Linked DNA regions of Homo sapiens. The gene in region 5 interacts genetically with the main gene of each other region. Each region holds a gene or a part of one and is shown on either strand. Other genes may lie near its edges.

Region 1 (3,519 bases), on a different chromosome or scaffold from region 5:
TGCCTATGTGTTTTAAAAATCTTAAGGTTCGCACTTCTAATTAAGCCAACTGATGTTTCTTTTTCATTCTTATTTCCAATCTGTTACCTTTTTTTTTAATTTTTTAGAAATAGGGTCTTGATTTGTGACGCAGGCCACAAATTGTACCACTCCAGTACAGTGGTACAATCTCCATTCACTGCTGCCTTGAATTCCTGGGCTCAAGGGATCCTCCCGCCTTAGACACCAGAGTGGCTGGGTCTACAGGCATGTGCCACTGTACGCCGCTAATTTTTTAATTTTTCATAGAGATGGGGTCTCACCATCTTGCCCAGGCTAGTCTCGAACTCCTGGGCTCAAGCGATCTTCCTGCCTCAGCCTCCCAAAGTGGTAGGATTACAGGCACAAGCCACTGTGCCCAGCCTCCTTTCTGTAACTTTTCAGTCCTAGTCCATCCCAGCCGACCCTTTTCCTACCTTCCCCTCCCATGATCCCACAGTCCTTTCACCACCCTGACCTCAATCTCAGCATAGCACTGGCCGGCAAACACATGACCTCCATCTTCTACAATGTACTGGATTAACTTCCCAGCAGAAGGTGAGCGCATCACCGATGGGTCATTTTCCTTCTCAAACACACAGGTTTTATTGCCAATTGTGATGCGATATCTAGGAGACAAGTGGAAGTATGTAAGCTAAGAAAGCACCTCAGGATGTAAAGGAGAATGGTAGAGAATGTCAACCTTCAAAGAAAAAAAATCCTGAAAACTTTATTATACACACACACAGACATATTCACTGCATATTTGTTTACAATGTCAATTAACATAAATTTCCTTCAATAAGGATCAGATTAAATATAGTATAATCATATAATGGAATACCACATGACTATTAAAAATAACAGGTACCACCATTTAAAAAAACACACACAAAGATATTGATGACGTAATAGCTAACATTTCTTGAAGCCTAGCTATGTTGTGGCAATGTTCTACACATTTTCAACATGTTAATTTATTTCATTCTCATAACACCATAACTGGTGTTGAACATTTGTGAATTTCTTTTTTTTTTGATACGGAGTTTTGCTCTTGTTGCCCAGACTGGAGTGCAATGGCGTGATCTCGGCTCACCGCAACCTCCACCTCCCAGGTTCACGTGATTCTCCTGCCTCTGCCTCCCAAGTAGCTGGGACTACAGGCATAAGCCACCACATCTGGTTAATTTTGTATTTTTAGTAGAGACAGGGTTTCACCACATTGGCCACACCGGTCTTGAACTCCCAGCCTCAGGTGATCCACCTGCCTCGGCCTCCCAAAGTGCTGGGATTACAGGCGTGAGCCACCGCGCCCAGCCACATTTGTGAATGTATTTAAAGAAAAACAGTATGTACATGAGTGTAACTTGTATATGCATATAAAATTTCTACTCAAATATGTAAGAAACTTTTAACAATGGTTACTTATAAAAAGGGGAACTTATTTTTCATTGTCCACATACACTGGAGTGGTAGGGAGACATGTTTTTAATTATAAACACTTTAATACTCTTGATATTTTTGTTAAGTGCATGTACTATTTTTTTTTTTTTTAACTACAAATGAGTACCAAGAAAAGCCTGGGAAAATCCCAAGAGCTAGTAGCTAATAAGAGAAAAGGCTAACAGGATGACCAGCAAATGGACCTCAAACAGCCACTTACCTATCCACTTCCTCTTTCATATACGTAGTATAACTGCTGCCATCATAGGACAAGAGCAGTCCACCGTCACTCAGCCGATGTACATCTACTTCTACACATGAGCCATTCATGATCACCACATAGGAGTTGGGGGACTGTCGAGTCACCTGTAGGGAATGAGAATGAGGATCAGTGTGTCCCTTCCAGGTACAGCTCCAAATGAAATTTGAATGCTTCAAAAATACAGATAAGAAAGATCTGTCAGGAGGAAGAAAATTCATGGCACTGATGCTATTTGCATCAGTGTCTGTGGACATGGCTCAGTCCTGCTGTAAGCAAAGAGGGCAACCTTAGTTGATTTTCCCCAACTGTGGTTGTTCTCTGTCTCTCCTTTATCTCTTGGCAGTGTATGTGAAGTTGAAGAACAACAAAAAAGATTTTCATAGAACAACAAACGCTGCTTCAGGACACTGACAAAAATAATGACGGTAATTTCACTAATACCCCCATCCCTGCATTAAATCAAACTTTTTCTCCTGCCTCTCAACCTAAAGAAAGATAGCTAAAAAAGTAAGGTGCAAGCTCCAATGGGGTTCTGCATACCTTAAGTACATACTTGACTCCCTCATAGATAAGTTCAACATCTACTGTATTCAGAAGTGTATGAGCAGGAAGGACTTGACCCCTGAAAGAACGATGAGAGAGGAACTTACTACAAAGTTCTAACAGTTATAAGAGAATCTAAAACATTATTGATTGTAGCATTTCCTAGAATAACAAAAGACTAGAAACAACCTAAATACCTAAATGATCGTTTGTAAGGAATTGATCACATCAATTATGAATCTTACAATGGATTTTTTTAAATTAGGGTAAAATACACATTACATTAAATTTGCCATCTTAACCATTACAAAATGCACAGTTCTATAGTGTTGGGGATATTAACACTATTCTGCAACCAATCTGCAGGACTTTTTCAACTGGCAAAAGTGAAACTCTACACCCATTAACAACTCCCAATTTCGCCCTCCCCCCAGTTCCTGGTAACCGTCATTCTACTTTCTAGTTCTATGAGTCTGACTACTCTTCATACTTCATATAAGTAAAACCATATAGTATTTGTCTTTTTGTGACAGGCTTAATTCACTTGCCCTAATGTCCTTAAGATCCACCTATGTTTTAGCATGTGTCAGAATTTCCTTCTTCTTTAAGGCTGAATAATACTGTATTGTATGTATATGCCACATTTTGTTTATCCAGTCATCCATCAACCAACATCTGAGTTGCTCCCATCTTTTAGCTACTGTGAATAATCCTCCTATGAATGTGGCTGTGCAAGTATCTTTCAGACCCTGCTTTCAATTCTTTCAGAATACCCAGAAGTGGTATTACCAGATCATAGGGTAATTCTATTTTTAATTTTTTCAGTAATTGCAATACCATTTTTCAATAGTGGCTGCATCATTTTACATTCCCATCAAGAGTGCACAAGTGTCCCAATTTCTCTACGTACTTGCCAATACTTGCTATTTTCTGTTTTTTGACAGTGGGCATCCTAATGGGTGTGAGGTGGTATCTCATCATGGTTTTGATTTTATTTACTTAATGATTAGTGATGTTGCGCATGTTTTCACATGTGGAACAAAACATACAGACATTAAAAAGATGTGAACTAAAAAACACTTTAAAAAATATACTGTTGAGTTAAAAAAGCAAGGTAAATAACAGCTTCACAGCATGCTACCATTTGAGTTTTAAAAAACCAGGAGGTGGGAAGAAACAAATATTGCATGTTGATATGGTTCGGCTGTGTTCCCACTCAAATCTCATCTTGAACTGTAGCTCCCATAATTCTC
Region 2 (3,519 bases), on a different chromosome or scaffold from region 5:
GTAAAAGTACTAAAGCAAAGCTTTTAACAAAGGCTAAAACTTAAGCATAGTGCTGCTCTGTACACTGTACTGAGATTCAGACGTTGACCTTTCTACCTCATAACTTACCTGTATGATCTGCTATAGTAGTCCCGATCATCATAGCCCCGATCATATCCTCTGTCATAGTAATCCCGACGGCGAGAGCTGCCACTATGAAGAAAAAAATATTCAGGTGACCTCCCTTATCTTTCTGGACATGAGTTTTTATATCTACTAGTAGGCCTTTTCTGACACATTAACTGGAAAATGAAAATTATTCCTGTTAAAATTCTCACCTATATTGAGCAAACATTGCCCTTTCCCTTGTTTCAATATATATAAACCTATTTTTAAAAATCTTTGGTTAAGGAGGCACACAGATCCTGCCAGAGGTCAATCTGCATATCCCACATATTTCTAAGAGGAAACAAAAATAGTATCACTTTGCTCTATTTAAGAAAATTTAGGCCGGGTGCAGCAACTCACGCCTGTAATCCCAGCTCTTTGGGAGGCCGAGGCGGGCAGATCATGAGGTCAGGAGATCGAGAACATCCTGGCTAACATGGTGAAAACCTGCCTCTACTAAAAATGCAAAAAATTAGCCGGACGTTGCGACACGCGCCTGTAGTCCCAGCTACTCGGGAGGCTGAGGCAGGAGAACTGCTTGAACCCAGGAGGCGAAGGTTGCAGTGAACTGAGATTGCACCATCGCACTCCAGCCTGGGCGACAGAGCAAGACTCCGTCTCAAAACAAAACAAAAACAAAACCAAACAACAACAAACAAAAAATTTAAAAATGGACTTGACTAAGATTTAGTTTTACCTGTAATGGTTGAACTTCTACTATGAGAAAAATGCCCTAATGAGGAGCATTTAATCAATCAACAGTCAAGTTTATGGCACAAACCTAAGTGCTGAAGACTTTCCACTAATACAAGTGTTTCTTTGACAAGTGAAAAACTGCCAATTATATTTATTTTGAAAATAAACTTACTAGGTAGGTCTCCCCATGTAAATTCCTGGTGTTGGCGTATGTGGTCTTTTTGTTATAGAGAAATCAACTCTGATCCTACGCCCATCAAGCTCCATTCCATTGGCACGTTCTTTAGCCTTCAAAAGGTAAATAAATTGTTACATACATCCTGAACAAAGCCACTAATTATCCTGTGGCTATGAGTAAGATCCCACTGGACATTTCAGTTAGGTGCATTAAGTTATCTTAATGTTAGCCAGAACGTAAGGTCTACAACTTACAAATGTGTTGTTCCCTCTACTAAATGTTCATTTGTAAAAGCTACTCATAAAAACTTGAAACAATTATTTTACCTAACTATGATCCTGACAGTATTTCCAGCTCCAAAGCAGCACACAATTGGCAAACTATAGCCTGTAGGTCAAATCTGGCCAGCTGGCTGTTTCTGTATAACCCATAAGCTAAAAATTTAAATAACTAGGGGGAAAAACAGTATTTCATGACAAGTGAAGAAACACACAAAATCCAAATTCCAATGCCCCAAAATAATCTTTTATTGGAATAGGGCCCCAACTCATTCATCTGGCTGCTGTTGGGTTAAAACAACAGAGTTAAATAGTTGCGACTGAGATCCTATGACTGAAACCTGAACACATTATTTAACCCTTGGAAGTTTTCTTAGCCCTTCTCTGGAAGCCAAAAGCTAAGACTGAAGCACAGCCTTAAGTACATATAGTTCCTTTTCCCAAAGTATGTATTAACAGCATACATTTAAAAAATAAAAATACCCCGTTTCAAACACATTAAAGTTTGTTCATAATTTGAGGAAACATCCTTTCACCTAAATAGAATTTAAGTTTCTAATTCCAATACTATGCTATCTTCTAGTTCAGATGTTCAAGCTAGTGTTTACGCCCAGGCAGTTTCTGGCACTAGAGATTAAGATAAAATTTATGCTATTTTCCGAGAGCTATGATCCTACTGCAAAAATTTAATTAGGAAATGGGCGGCCGCGCATGGTGGCTCACACCTGTAATCCCCCAGCACTTTGGGAGGCCGAGGGGGGCAGATCACCTGAGGTTGGGAGTTCGAGACCACCCTGACCCAACATGGAGAAACCCCGTCTCTACTAAAAATACAAAATTAGCTGGGTGTGGTAGCCTGTAATCCCACCTGCTCAGGAGGCTGAGGCAGGAGAATTGCTTGAACCCAGGAGGCGGAGGTTGCGGTGAGCCGGAGATCGCGCCATTGCACTCCAGCCCAGGCAAGAAGAGTGAAACTCCGTTTGTCATTAAGTGTTTCTCAGTTCTTCCTCTTCTCTATACTTGGAGATGACTTTAGCTACCATCCTTAATGTACCTAAAATCTGAATTTCTTAAATGGGGTCTAGCCCCACATTTCAAATCTTGACTCTATATTCTGCCTCAAAACAAATCAAAATCCAAATATGACATCATTCACTAGCCAAAAAAGGAACAATGTTTTCCTTCTGCATCATAACTTTGCTTTTGGTTATTTTTGACTCTAGAATGTGAACCCAGTGTAAACACTGACTACATATCCTGGCGGAATTGGGGTATAGTTGACCCCAATAGGTGGCAACTAATAAAGCAGGTGGTAGGACCAACTTCCCCAAGTTATACAAAATTTTGTTATTCTGCATGTATCTTGAGTCTCCACAAGAGGTTGGAGAAAAAGTTCGAAGTATTACTGACTTGTCCTTGTCCTTATCCTAGCAATTGGTCACTGATAACTTGGCGTTAACAATAGAACTGATGGTTTACAAAGGAACGGGCTTTTACTTACTTCCTTGGCATCATCTACATTTTCAAAATATACAAAGGCAAATCCTCTTGAACGCCTAGACTGCTGGTCATATACAATAGACACATCGGCAATGGGACCATATTTAGAGAACACTTCTCTTAGATCTCTTTCTGTGGTGTACAAGCTCAGCCCAAATACTCCAAGACAACAGTTAGGATCAGGATTTGCCTAGGGAAAAAAAAAAGTTTTAAACTTTGGAAAAGTTGTCATAAAATCAAAGTTGTTTAAAAAGGGAGCTGTATACTAGCCAAAATGTCACTAACAAGAAAAGTACATAATGATTAGACCAAACACTGCTTAGAAATTACAAAATTACAGCAAGTACTACAAGTATTTTTGGGAATGGGTAGGAAAGAATGCAAAAGAAAAAATTTCAACCTTAGAATTAAGTAGGTAAACAAGCACTCGTGCTGGCGAAAAGCAACTTGGCATCTTTCCTTCTATGAATTTATTCTAAGAAAAATTCACATATTCATAACATGACATACAAGGATAACTGGAACCACACTGTGTCTATCAGCTAGAAAAAATTGTAATGTTGACACACCTTCCATTCAATAGAATGCTCTGAATTGCCAAAAAGATGAGCATGTATGGTTCGATTTTTTCAGAAACACAATACACAAGTAAGTACATAAACGAAGCCTGAGGGGATGCGTACCAAACCATTTTACAGGTCATAAACAGCTTGCAATCGT
Region 3 (3,519 bases), on a different chromosome or scaffold from region 5:
AAATACAGGAAAAGAAGAAATTAAACAAATACAGTTAGCTTGTGATACTGATTTGGAGGCTCGCAAGATTGATTCAACATCAACTGCTTGGACATGTTTCTGGACTACGTGAAATACCAGGGAATTATTTACACATTACAATTCTAGAAAAATAATTTTTTAAATCTGCTTTGGAAGTGTTTAGGACTTAAACATTTCAATGAATATTCAAATAACAATGCTGTACTGCCTAATATTTACATTATGTTAGTACATGCAAATGGGTGTTCTAAGTGAGCTACTTGGAACTGTACAATTTCTTAAGCATATCTGAATGCAAAAGGAAGAATAACGTTATTAGAAGAATAATTCTCAGAGGTGGTGCTGGGTGGGCTGGTGGGCTGCGCTGCAGCCCACGAGCACAAAGAGGAGGGCCACGGGGTGGAGACTGTTGCTGTGCCATCTGCCATCGACTTTTCCGCCAAGAGCCTGGACTCCAAATATGACTTATGTTCCAGCAGAACTCCAGGTATTAAAATAACCCCTACAACAGCCAACTTTCCCTTTTGCAGTTGCAAACCAGCTGCCGCTTATTTCTTTGGTGAAGCACTTGAGCCATGTGCGTGAACCAAACCCAGTTCATTCAAGACAGTGTTTAAGTTACTTTGCCAGACCTTTATCAAAATGGGGCTGCTGTCTTCTTTCACTTGTGACAAGTTTAGCTCATTGAGACTACATCACCACAGAGCTATTACTCACTTAATGAGGTCCACTAAAGAGAGAGTTCATCAGGATCCTTGTGAGGCTATTTCTCATATCCAGAAAATCAGATCAAGGGAAGTACCCTTTGAAGCACAAACTTCACGTTACTTAAATGAATTTGAAGAACTTGCCATCTTAGGAAAAGGTGGATATGGAAGAGTATACAAGGTCAGGAATAAATTAGATGGTCAGTATTATGCAATTTAAAAAATCCTGATTAAGGGTGCAACAAAAACACATTACATGAAAGAACTACGGGGAATGAAGGTGCTGGCAGGTCTTCAGCACCCTAATATCATTCGTTATCACACTGCGTGGACAGAACATGTTCAAGTGGTCCAACCACAAGCAGACAGAGCTTCCGTTCAGTTGCCATTTCTGGAAGTGTTCTCCGACCAAGCAGACAGATACCAATACGGTGTTAAAAATGGTGAAAATAGCAGCTCACCCATTATCTTCGCGGAGCTCACCTCAGAAAAGAAAAACCCTTTGCAGAATCTGACACTCAAAATCAGAACAACAAGCTGTGAACTACACCATCAATTCCGTCTTAAGAGACACCAGTGAATATGAATCATCCCTGGAGCTCCAGGAAAATGGCCTGGCTGGTTTGTCTACCTGGTCAATTGTGAAACAGCCCCTGCTGCTCAGGTGTAATTCCCTCCTAGAGGAGAATTTCACATCCACTGAGGAATCTTCCAAAGAAAACTTCAACTTGTTGGGGATCGAGGTGCAGTACCACCTGATGCTGCACATCCAGATGCAGGTGTGCAAGCTCCAGCTGTGGGACTGGCTAGCTGAGAGAAACAAACAGGGCCAAGAGTGTGTGGGCAAGTTTGCCTGTCCTTATGGCCAGTGTTGCAACAAAAAATTTTCAAGATTTAGTGGAAGGTGTGTTTTACATACATAACATGGGTATTGTAAACAGAGATCTGAAGCCTAGAAATATTTTTCTTCATGGCCCTGATCAGCAAGTAAAAATAGGAGACTTTGGTCTGGCTTGCCCAGACATCTTACAAAAGAACACAGACTGGACCCATAGAAACAGAAAGAGAACACCAACACCTATATCCAGAGTGGGCACTTGTCTGTATGCTTCATCCCAGCAGTTGGAAGGATCTGAGTATGATGCCAAGGGTCTCACTCTGTTGCCCAGGCTGGAGTGCAGTGGTGTCATCATAGCTCACAGCAGCCTCCAACTCCTGGGGTCAAGTGATCCTCCCACCTCAGCCTCCCAAGTAGCTGGGACTACAGGAGTGTGCCACTGAGCCCAGCTAATTAAAAAAAAACAAAAACTATTTGTAGAGACCAGGGCTGGCTTTGTCCAGTTAGATATGTATATAGCTTGAGTGTGATCCTGCTAGAGCTCTTTCAGCTGTTTAGAACAGAAATGGAGCGAGCAGAAGTTTTAACAGGTTCAAGAACTGGTCAGATATTGGAATCCCTCAGTAAAAGGTATCCAGTACAAGCCAAGTATATCTATCACTTAACGAAAAGGAACATGTCCCAGAGACCATCTGCTCTTCAACTGCTACAGAGTGAATTTTTCCACAATTCTGGAAATATTAATCTCACCCTACAGATGAAGATAATAGAGCAAGAAAAAGAAATTTTTCTTTTAGTTCTTTTAGAAGAACTAAAGAAGCAGCTAAACCTTCTTTCTCAAGACAAAGGGTTAAGGATGACATGAAGGATGGGGGCGTACAGGTCTAGCCTTCCTCGAGCTATATCAGTAGGATGAAAGTGGACTTAAACTCTTTAGGTAGTTAACTGGAATGTAAATTTTTAATCTTTATTAGCATATAGTTGGTATAATTCATTGTATTTAGTAAGCCTGTACAAGACTTATTAAAGATGTAAGAGTGCCCCCCACCAAAAAAAACGAATCCTCAATCTATTCTAACTTATTAAAAACAACTATCTGAGCTAGGCACAGTGGCTTATGCCTATAATCCCTGCATTTTGGGATGCTGAGGTGGGTGGATCACTTGAAGCCAGGGGTTCAAGACCAGCCTGGCCAACATGGTGAAACCCATCTCTACTAAAAATATAATAATTAGCCAGCTGTGGTGGTGCACGCTTATAATCCCAGCTACTTGGGAGGCTAAGGCAGGAGAACTGCTTGAACCCAGGAGGCAGAGGTTGCCGTGAGCCAAGATCGTGCCACTGTACTCCAGCCTGGATGACAGAGCGAGACTCTGTCTCAAAAACAACAACCACCACCACCACCACAACAACAACAACAAAACTATCTGCAAACTTTGCAGCTTCAACTAAGTAAGAAGTGAATTGCTGCATTTGTTAACATAGCTTGTGACATACTGGTATCATGATATTAAAGCTCAGACCTGTTGTTCTGTAAGTTCAGGCAATTTGTACTATAGTTTTTCCTACTGTATCTCATAACTGTGAATTGTCTATGGTTAAACAAGTGTGCCATGAACTTTTATTATACAAATGCGAATACTGTTAACATTACTGACAATAAAGAAAACTTATGGCATTGTGATACTAGAGAACTAGATTTCAGAGTAATCAATAGTCACTAACAGTATTTCCAAGCAGTTCTCATGCATAGAGATGAGAACTATAGCTGCATATCAAGTTCATTTGTAGAGATGAGGACTACAGCCCATATCAAGCTATACCTTCTACTAACCTTTTCATTGACAACTTCTCCAGTTTCATTCAGTGGCGCTTTGGAATGCCCTTTCACTGGTTTACTCCATTCCACAAGAGGATCATGTAGAAAAGTCTTTAAGACACTAAAATTGAAAC
Region 4 (3,519 bases), on a different chromosome or scaffold from region 5:
ACAGATGTGGGGCCTTGGAAGCATTGAGGAGGGGAGGTGGTGTTACAGCTGGTTCTAGAAGATGAGTGGGTAAGAGCTAAGATAGGAACTTTGTTCCAGCCAGAGGACAAAGAACCCTGGGAGGTGAGAGCAAGTGCAAGCAGGAACATTCAGGCCTGATCTTGATGGCCCAGCCTGAGAGAAAGCAGGAGAGAGGGCAGGGTGGGATCGGAGAGAGGGCAGGGTGGGATCAGAGAGGCCTTGAGTGCCACTCCACCCTGAGGCGCCCTTTGCCTTTAATTATGCTGGTTCCCACTGGCATTTGCGGGAAGGACTCAGAGCTTCAGAATAGCGTACCATCACCACAGTTAGGGAAGGTTCTTCCCATCCTTGTCTCCTGAGCTGCATAAACTGTGTCACACTGGGTCTTAGAATAAAAATTCCATGAGGGCAGGAATTTTAGGCTGTTAAACCAGTTCTTGGCACATAGTAGACATTCAGTAAATATTTGCAAGATGAATAAAAGGCAGTATTTTCCCAAGATATCATGAGGTCCTTCAAGATTTTTACTTGTTCATTCCCGTCTTCATAATGAACTGTCCTGCTTCCTACCAGGTCTTCAGGAACCAGCTTTGCAGCAGGAGCCGTGCGTCTTTCCATGCCTGGTGCCATGAAACAGGCAGGGCCAAGCGTGCCTCCCTTTTTTTTTTTTTTTAAGACAGAGTCTCAGTCTTTTGCCCAGGCTGGAGTACGGTGGCACAAGCTCAGCTGACTGCAACCTCCACCTCCCAGACTCAAGTGATTCTCGTGCCTTAGCCTCCTGAGTAGCTGGAATTACAGGTGTGCACCACCACACCCAGCTAATTTTGTATTTTTAGTAGAGATGGGGTTTCACCATGTTGGCCAGGCTGGTCTCGAATTCCTGGCCTCAAGTGATCCACCCACCTCTGTCTCCCAAAGCGCTGGGATTACAGGTGTAAGCCACTACGCCCAGCCCTAGAGTGCCTTCCTTTCTGTCAATCTTTATTGTTTTATTTTTATTTTGAGACAGGGTCTCACACCATCACCCAGGCTGGAGTGCAGTGGCACAGTCACGGCTCACTGCAGCCTTGACCTCCTGGGCTCAGGTGATCCTCCCACTTCAGCCTTCTGAGTAGCTAGGACGATAGGTGCCTGCCCCCACACCCGGCTAATTGTTTTGTTTTTTTTGTAGAGTCAGGGTTTCACTGTGTTGCCCGGGCTGGTCTTGTTCTCTGGGACTCAAGCGATCTGTCCACCTCAGCTTCCCAAAGTGCTGGGATTATAGGCATGAGCCATCGCACTTGGCCTATTGTTTTATTTTCATTACAAAAGTAATTCGTGCTTCTGGTAACAGATCTTTAAGAAATACAGCCATATATAAATCAAAAAGTTGCAGTCACTATATCATTTGAATGTTTTTGAATCAGGTAACAGAAAACTTAACCTCAGTAGCCTGAATAATATGGAAATGTGTTATTTTTAATGCTGACAACACCGTGAGGTAGGTGCCCTCGCAGTCCTCATTTTTCTTTGGAAGCAAAAGAGGCTCAGCGAGGTGAAGAGCCTTGCCCCGGGGCCAGTCTTGGCACTCGAATTAGATTTTAGCACTGCTTCCAAGGCCCACGCTCTGTCCCCTAATTCTGGTGCCTTCACTTTGATTTTGGCTTCCTTAGCCCAGAGTAAACTGCCAGCCCCTCTCACTCTCCCCCTCCTCCTTCCTGTCTGCAGCTCCAGAAAGCAGTGGGGCCTGAGATCACCAAGACAGACCTGGTCCCTGCCTTCCAGAACCTGATGAAAGACTGTGAGGCCGAGGTGAGGGCCGCAGCCTCCCACAAGGTCAAAGGTTGGTGCTGGCAGCCGGAACACAGCAAGTGGGGTGGGTATCCAAGGGGCTGGAGGTGGAACTAGCACATCAGGTCTCACTTCCCTTTGCCTCCCTCTCCCTGCCCACAGAGTTCTGTGAAAACCTCTCAGCTGACTGTCGGGAGAATGTGATCATGTCCCAGATCTTGCCCTGCATCAAGGTAACAGAGAGTTTGATGGGAGGAACCAAGTGGATCCGAGCCTGCCAAAAAGAGGGGCTGGAGACAAGGCTTTGGGGATAGTCAGCTGCAAACTAGGTTCCCAGCCCTCTGGGACCAGGCAGCTCTTGGGTTTCAAGCAGTTAGGGGTCCTGACTGCAGCTTGAGGCTGACCTTAAAGGTGGAAGTACTTTCTAGAACCTCAGATGTCACTGAGTCCTGTCATTCACAGGGTTTTGGGGTTGGAGTGGGGGCTGCTGAGAGCAGGGGTCATTGAACTCTTAAGTAGGTGGTACTCATAAGGAATAGTGATTTCCCCTGTACCCTAAGCCATCCCCTGCTCTATGAATGAGAGGGGCAGAAGCAGGTTATTGTCTCTTAGGAGTTGGCATCTGCTTAGCCACTTGCTGCTGCAGGGGTTGCACTGACCCCTGTGCCTGCCTCTTCTCTCTCCCAGGAGCTGGTGTCCGATGCCAACCAACATGTCAAGTCTGCCCTGGCCTCAGTCATCATGGGTCTCTCTCCCATCTTGGGCAAAGACAACACCATCGAGCACCTCTTGCCCCTCTTCCTGGCTCAGCTGAAGGATGAGGTAAGGGCACCAGGATCTCAGCTCTGGGTTTGTGGAGGGGACAGGCGGGTCTTCCTAGATTGCTAGGGTTTACCTAGATTGACCAGGAATCTGCTGATATCTCAACAGACATCCAGATCTTTGCTGAGTTGCATGTTTGTGGGCATAGCTGTGTGTTCATGCGTTCATTCCTCCAGGCACTCTTCATGAGGCCTTTCCTGGACATGGAGGATATGAAAAATAGAAATTTAAAGTTTTTATTTATGGCCAGGCGCGGTGGCTCACGCCTGTAATCCCAGCACTTTGGGAGGCTGAGGCGGGTGGATCACCTGAGGTCAGGAGTTCGAGACCAGCCTGGCCAACATGATGAAACCTCGTGTCTGCTAAAAATGCAAAAATTAGCCAGGCATGGTGGCGAGTGCCTGTAATCTCAGCTACTCGGGCAGCTAAGGCAGGAGTATCACTTGAACTCAGGAGGCAGAGGTTGCAATGAGCCAAGATTGCACCACTGCACTCCAGCCTGGACAACAGAGCAAGACTCTGTCTCAAAAAAAAAATTATTTATTTATGTTTTGAGATAGGGTCTTGCTCTATTGCCCACACTGCAGTGCAGTGATGTGATCATGGTCTACTGCAGCCTCCACCTTCCAGGCTCAAGTGATCCTCCCACCTTAGCCTCCCAAGTAGCTGGGACTACAGGCAAGAGCCACCACATCTAGATAATTTTAAAAAACATTTTCCATAGAGACAAGATATTATGTTGCCCAGGTTGGTCTTGAACTCCTGATCTCAAGCAGTCCTTTTGCCTTGGCCTCCAAAGGCCTGGGATTATAGGCGTGAGCCGCTGCCCCCAGCCTAGAATAAGAGTTTTGATCCCCAAAAGCCTTCAGAGACTGGCAGTGGAGAGAGACAGGCAGTCCCATGATG
Region 5 (3,519 bases):
ACTATCTTAGTTTCCTGACCAGCTAATGCTTACTCTTCATAAAATCAAGTTTAAACTTCTTAACCTTCTGAAATAGGATCTTAATTTTTTTTTTTTTTTTGAGATGGAGACAAAATCTTGCTCTGTTGCCCAGGCTGGAGAGCAGTGGTACAATCTTGGCTCATGGCAACCTTGGCCTCCTGGGCTCAAGCGATTCTCCCGCCTCCACCTCCCAAGTAGCTGCCACTACAGGCACAGCCCACGTCTGGCTAATTTTTATATTATTTGTAGAGATAGGGTCTTGCCATGTTGCCCAGGCTGGTCTCAAACTCCTGAGCTCAAGCGATCCACCCACCGTGGCCTCCCAAAGTGCTGGGATTACAGGTGTGAGCTATCATGCCCAGTTTGATGTATCTTTTTAAGGGTCATCTCCTACAACTTTTCTACACAAACTCTAAACCAGTTAAATGACCTTGCTTATTTATTGTCTTTTCCTTCTAACTTATGCCTTCCCATCCTCTGTTCATCCCATTCTATACAGTTAAATGCTTTTAATTTCCTTCCTTCCCAAATTTAGCATTCTTCAGAAGTCTGGTCCAAAATCTTTTCTCCATAAAGTATTCCATGATCACTCTAGGGTGAAATTACCCCTTTCTATTCCTTAAACAGCTAACCCATTTCCTCTGTGACATTCATTTTATATATCAGGCATGTTTTTGGACATCTATTATCTCCACTCATTCAAGCATTTATTGTTTACTGAGAGCCAAACACTGCCTTAGGCACTAGCAATACAGCAGAAAACATGCAGTGGCACGATCCCAGTCACTGGAGCCTCGACCTCTTGGGCTCAAGAGATTCTACCACCTCAGCCTCCTGAGTAGCTAGGACCACAGGTACACATCATCATGCTGGGCTAATATTTTTAATTGTCTGTTTTTGTTTGTTTGTTTTTAGAAATGGCATCTCAGAAACAGGGTCTCACTATGTTGCCCAGGCTGGTCTCAAATTCCTGGTCTCAAGCAATCCTCCCACTTTGGCTTCCCAAAGTACTGGGATTACAGGCATGAAACACCATGCTGGCCTCTTATGAAGTTTTAAGAACATCATCTCTGAAGTCTGGTTTGAGTCCAGTATTTGCTACTTAAATACAATGTATTGGGCAATTATTTAACCTACTGTGTCTATTTCCAAATCTTCCCACCAATAGGAGCATAAGTAAAGGAAAAAGAAACTGAAGGGGTCCAGGGAAGGTTTTTTCCTAATGGAGGAGACACTAGACATATTTGTATACTGATGAGGATAATCTCATAGAGAGGTACAAGAGAAAATGGAAGGAGTAGAGTCCTTGAGAAGGTGGCAGGAGATGGTAACCAAATCATATTGATAGAATGGGCCTTTGAGAAGAAAAGGGACACTTTCTCAATTGTAACCTGAGATAAGAAAAGATGGGCACAAATGTAGATTTGATGCAAAGAGCAGGTTAGGTTTTTGGCTAAGAATGAGAGTTGAAGAGGAGCATAAAGTTCTGATAACAGAAGACGAAGTATGAGATATGAGATGCCTGTCTAACTCAGTGGGAAAGTACACCTAAATGGAGAAAGTAGACTGCCAAGAAGTTTTGAATGTTAATCTAAAGTTTTGTCATCTTGAATTTTTTTCCTTTTTTCATTCTTTTTTTTTTTTTTTTTTTTTTTGAGACAGAGTCTCGCTTCTTTGACCAGGCTGGAATGCAATGGTGCGATCTCAGCTCCCTGCAACCTCTGCCCCCCGGGTTCAAGCGATTCTCCTGCCTCAGTCTCCCAAGTAACTGGGATTACAGGCACGTGCCAACACGCCCAGCTAATTTTTGTATTTTTAGTAGAGACAGGGTTTCACCATGTTGGCCAGGCTGGTCTTGAACTCCTGATCTTTTTTTTTTCTTCTTCTTTTTTTTTTTTTTTTTTTTTTTTTTTTTGAGACAGAGTCTCGCTCTGTCGCCCAGGCTGGAGTGCAGTGGCGCAATCTCGGCTCACTGCAAGCTGTGCCTCCCGGGTTCACGCCATTCTCCTGCCTCAGCCTCCCAAGTAGCTGGGACTACAGGCACCCGCCACCACGCCCAACTAATTTTTTGTATTTTTAGTAGAGATGGGGTTTCACTGTGTTAGCCAGGATGGTCTCAATCTCCTGACCTTGTGATCCGCCCACCTCGGCCTCCCAAAGTGCTGGGATTACAGGCGTGAGTCACCGCGCCCAGCCAAACTCTTGATCTCAAGTGATCCACCCGCCTCGGCCTCCCAAAGTACTGGGATTACAGGCGTGAGCCACCGTGCCTGGCCTGTCATCTTGAATTTAAAGTGAAGTCAGTCAGCTGTATGATACGATTTTTCTCCAGTATAATCAGCTATTTGGGTACAGACACTGAGAAGATAGATGAGTTTCATCTAAGGTTGGCATCTCTTCAAGTGGGTATGTAAACTGAGGCTATCTGCAAGAGAATTACTTTAATGATGAATCATAAAATCTAGACTAATGAAGAAGATGGAGGGCTGGGCGCAGTGGCTTACGCCTATAATTCCAGCACTTGGGAGGCCAAGGTGGGTGGATCACTTGAGATCAGGAGTTCAAGAGGAGCCTGGCCAACATGGTGAAACCCCCTCTCTACTAAAAACACAAAAATTAGCCGGGCATGCTGGTGGGCGCCTGTAATCCCAGGTACTCGGGAGGTTGATGAAGGAGAATCACTTGAACCAGAGAGGAGGTTGCAGTGAGCTGAGATCACACCACTGTACTTCAGCCTGGGCGACACAGCGAGATTCTGCCTCAAAAAAAAAAAAAAAAAAAAAAAGTAGCAAGTAAAGCCAGGAAAAGGCCTGGTAGCAAAAGTATTTGAAATTAACGTATCTGATAGGAGATCAATGATTTGGAAGTTTCTATGACATGGAAGGATTTTGAAGTAGGAGTCTATCTTCTAACTATTAACAGCTATAAGATTCTTGAGGACAGAGAAAGTACCTTTTATGGCCATCCTAACAGATGCTTGCAAATAGCAGGAATGAAGTAATGCTTGCTTATTTGATTAGCTATAGCCCCAACAGCTCACCTGGCAGGTGACAGCTAGCGTATGACAGATCTGGGTCTTCCCAGTTCGGAATTCTCCAAACATTTCTGTGATAGATCCAGTCTCAATTCCACCTAAAAAAGCGATAAGAAATAACTCTTAGCATAATACAAACATGTAGAAACTGTAGTCATAGAAATGTTCTTGGAGCTCATCAGAAAGATGTTTATGTAAGTTAAAAATTCAATTTCCAACAAGCGATAATTTTTCACAAATGTATTTTGAGGCTAGCCGTGGTGGCTCATGCCTGTAATCCCAGCACTTTAGGAAGCTTAGGTGGGTGGATTGCTTGAGTTCAGGAGTTCGAGACCAGCCTGGGCAACATGGTGAAGCCCTGTCTCTACAAAAATTAGCCGGGCATGGTGGCGGATGCCTGTAGTACCAGCTACTCAGGAGCTAAGGTGAGAGGATCACTTGAGCCTGGGAGGCAGAAGTTGCAG

Evidence for each region.
Region 1: changes in RAD51 (region 5) and ACACA together harm fitness less than expected from each alone (positive genetic interaction), as found in Homo sapiens cells (one large-scale study listed by BioGRID).
Region 2: changes in RAD51 (region 5) and TRA2B together harm fitness less than expected from each alone (positive genetic interaction), as found in Homo sapiens cells (one large-scale study listed by BioGRID).
Region 3: changes in RAD51 (region 5) and ATR are lethal when combined (synthetic lethality), as found in Homo sapiens cells (one large-scale study listed by BioGRID).
Region 4: changes in RAD51 (region 5) and PPP2R1A together harm fitness less than expected from each alone (positive genetic interaction), as found in Homo sapiens cells (one large-scale study listed by BioGRID).

What each region holds. Positions count from the first base shown.
Region 1 is NC_000017.11:37,246,330-37,249,848, forward strand, and holds part of ACACA (acetyl-CoA carboxylase 1), read right to left. Parts: intron 2,346-3,519; coding exon 2,264-2,345; intron 1,828-2,263; coding exon 1,682-1,827; intron 648-1,681; coding exon 497-647; intron 1-496. UniProt on the Homo sapiens protein: Cytosolic enzyme that catalyzes the carboxylation of acetyl-CoA to malonyl-CoA, the first and rate-limiting step of de novo fatty acid biosynthesis.
Region 2 is NC_000003.12:185,920,996-185,924,514, forward strand, and holds part of TRA2B (transformer-2 protein homolog beta), read right to left. Parts: intron 2,990-3,519; coding exon 2,801-2,989; intron 1,132-2,800; coding exon 1,016-1,131; intron 193-1,015; coding exon 109-192; intron 1-108. UniProt on the Homo sapiens protein: Sequence-specific RNA-binding protein which participates in the control of pre-mRNA splicing. Can either activate or suppress exon inclusion. Acts additively with RBMX to promote exon 7 inclusion of the survival motor neuron SMN2.
Region 3 is NC_000003.12:142,449,728-142,453,246, forward strand, and holds part of ATR (serine/threonine-protein kinase ATR), read right to left. Parts: intron 3,507-3,519; coding exon 3,401-3,506; coding exon of another isoform or gene 3,329-3,400; exon of another isoform or gene 876-3,328; coding exon of another isoform or gene 846-875; exon of another isoform or gene 832-845; intron 1-831. UniProt on the Homo sapiens protein: Serine/threonine protein kinase which activates checkpoint signaling upon genotoxic stresses such as ionizing radiation (IR), ultraviolet light (UV), or DNA replication stalling, thereby acting as a DNA damage sensor.
Region 4 is NC_000019.10:52,214,051-52,217,569, forward strand, and holds part of PPP2R1A (serine/threonine-protein phosphatase 2A 65 kDa regulatory subunit A alpha isoform), read left to right. Parts: intron 1-1,728; coding exon 1,729-1,843; intron 1,844-1,953; coding exon 1,954-2,024; intron 2,025-2,478; coding exon 2,479-2,613; intron 2,614-3,519. UniProt on the Homo sapiens protein: The PR65 subunit of protein phosphatase 2A serves as a scaffolding molecule to coordinate the assembly of the catalytic subunit and a variable regulatory B subunit.
Region 5 is NC_000015.10:40,708,659-40,712,177, reverse strand, and holds part of RAD51 (DNA repair protein RAD51 homolog 1), read right to left. Parts: intron 3,154-3,519; coding exon 3,062-3,153; intron 1-3,061.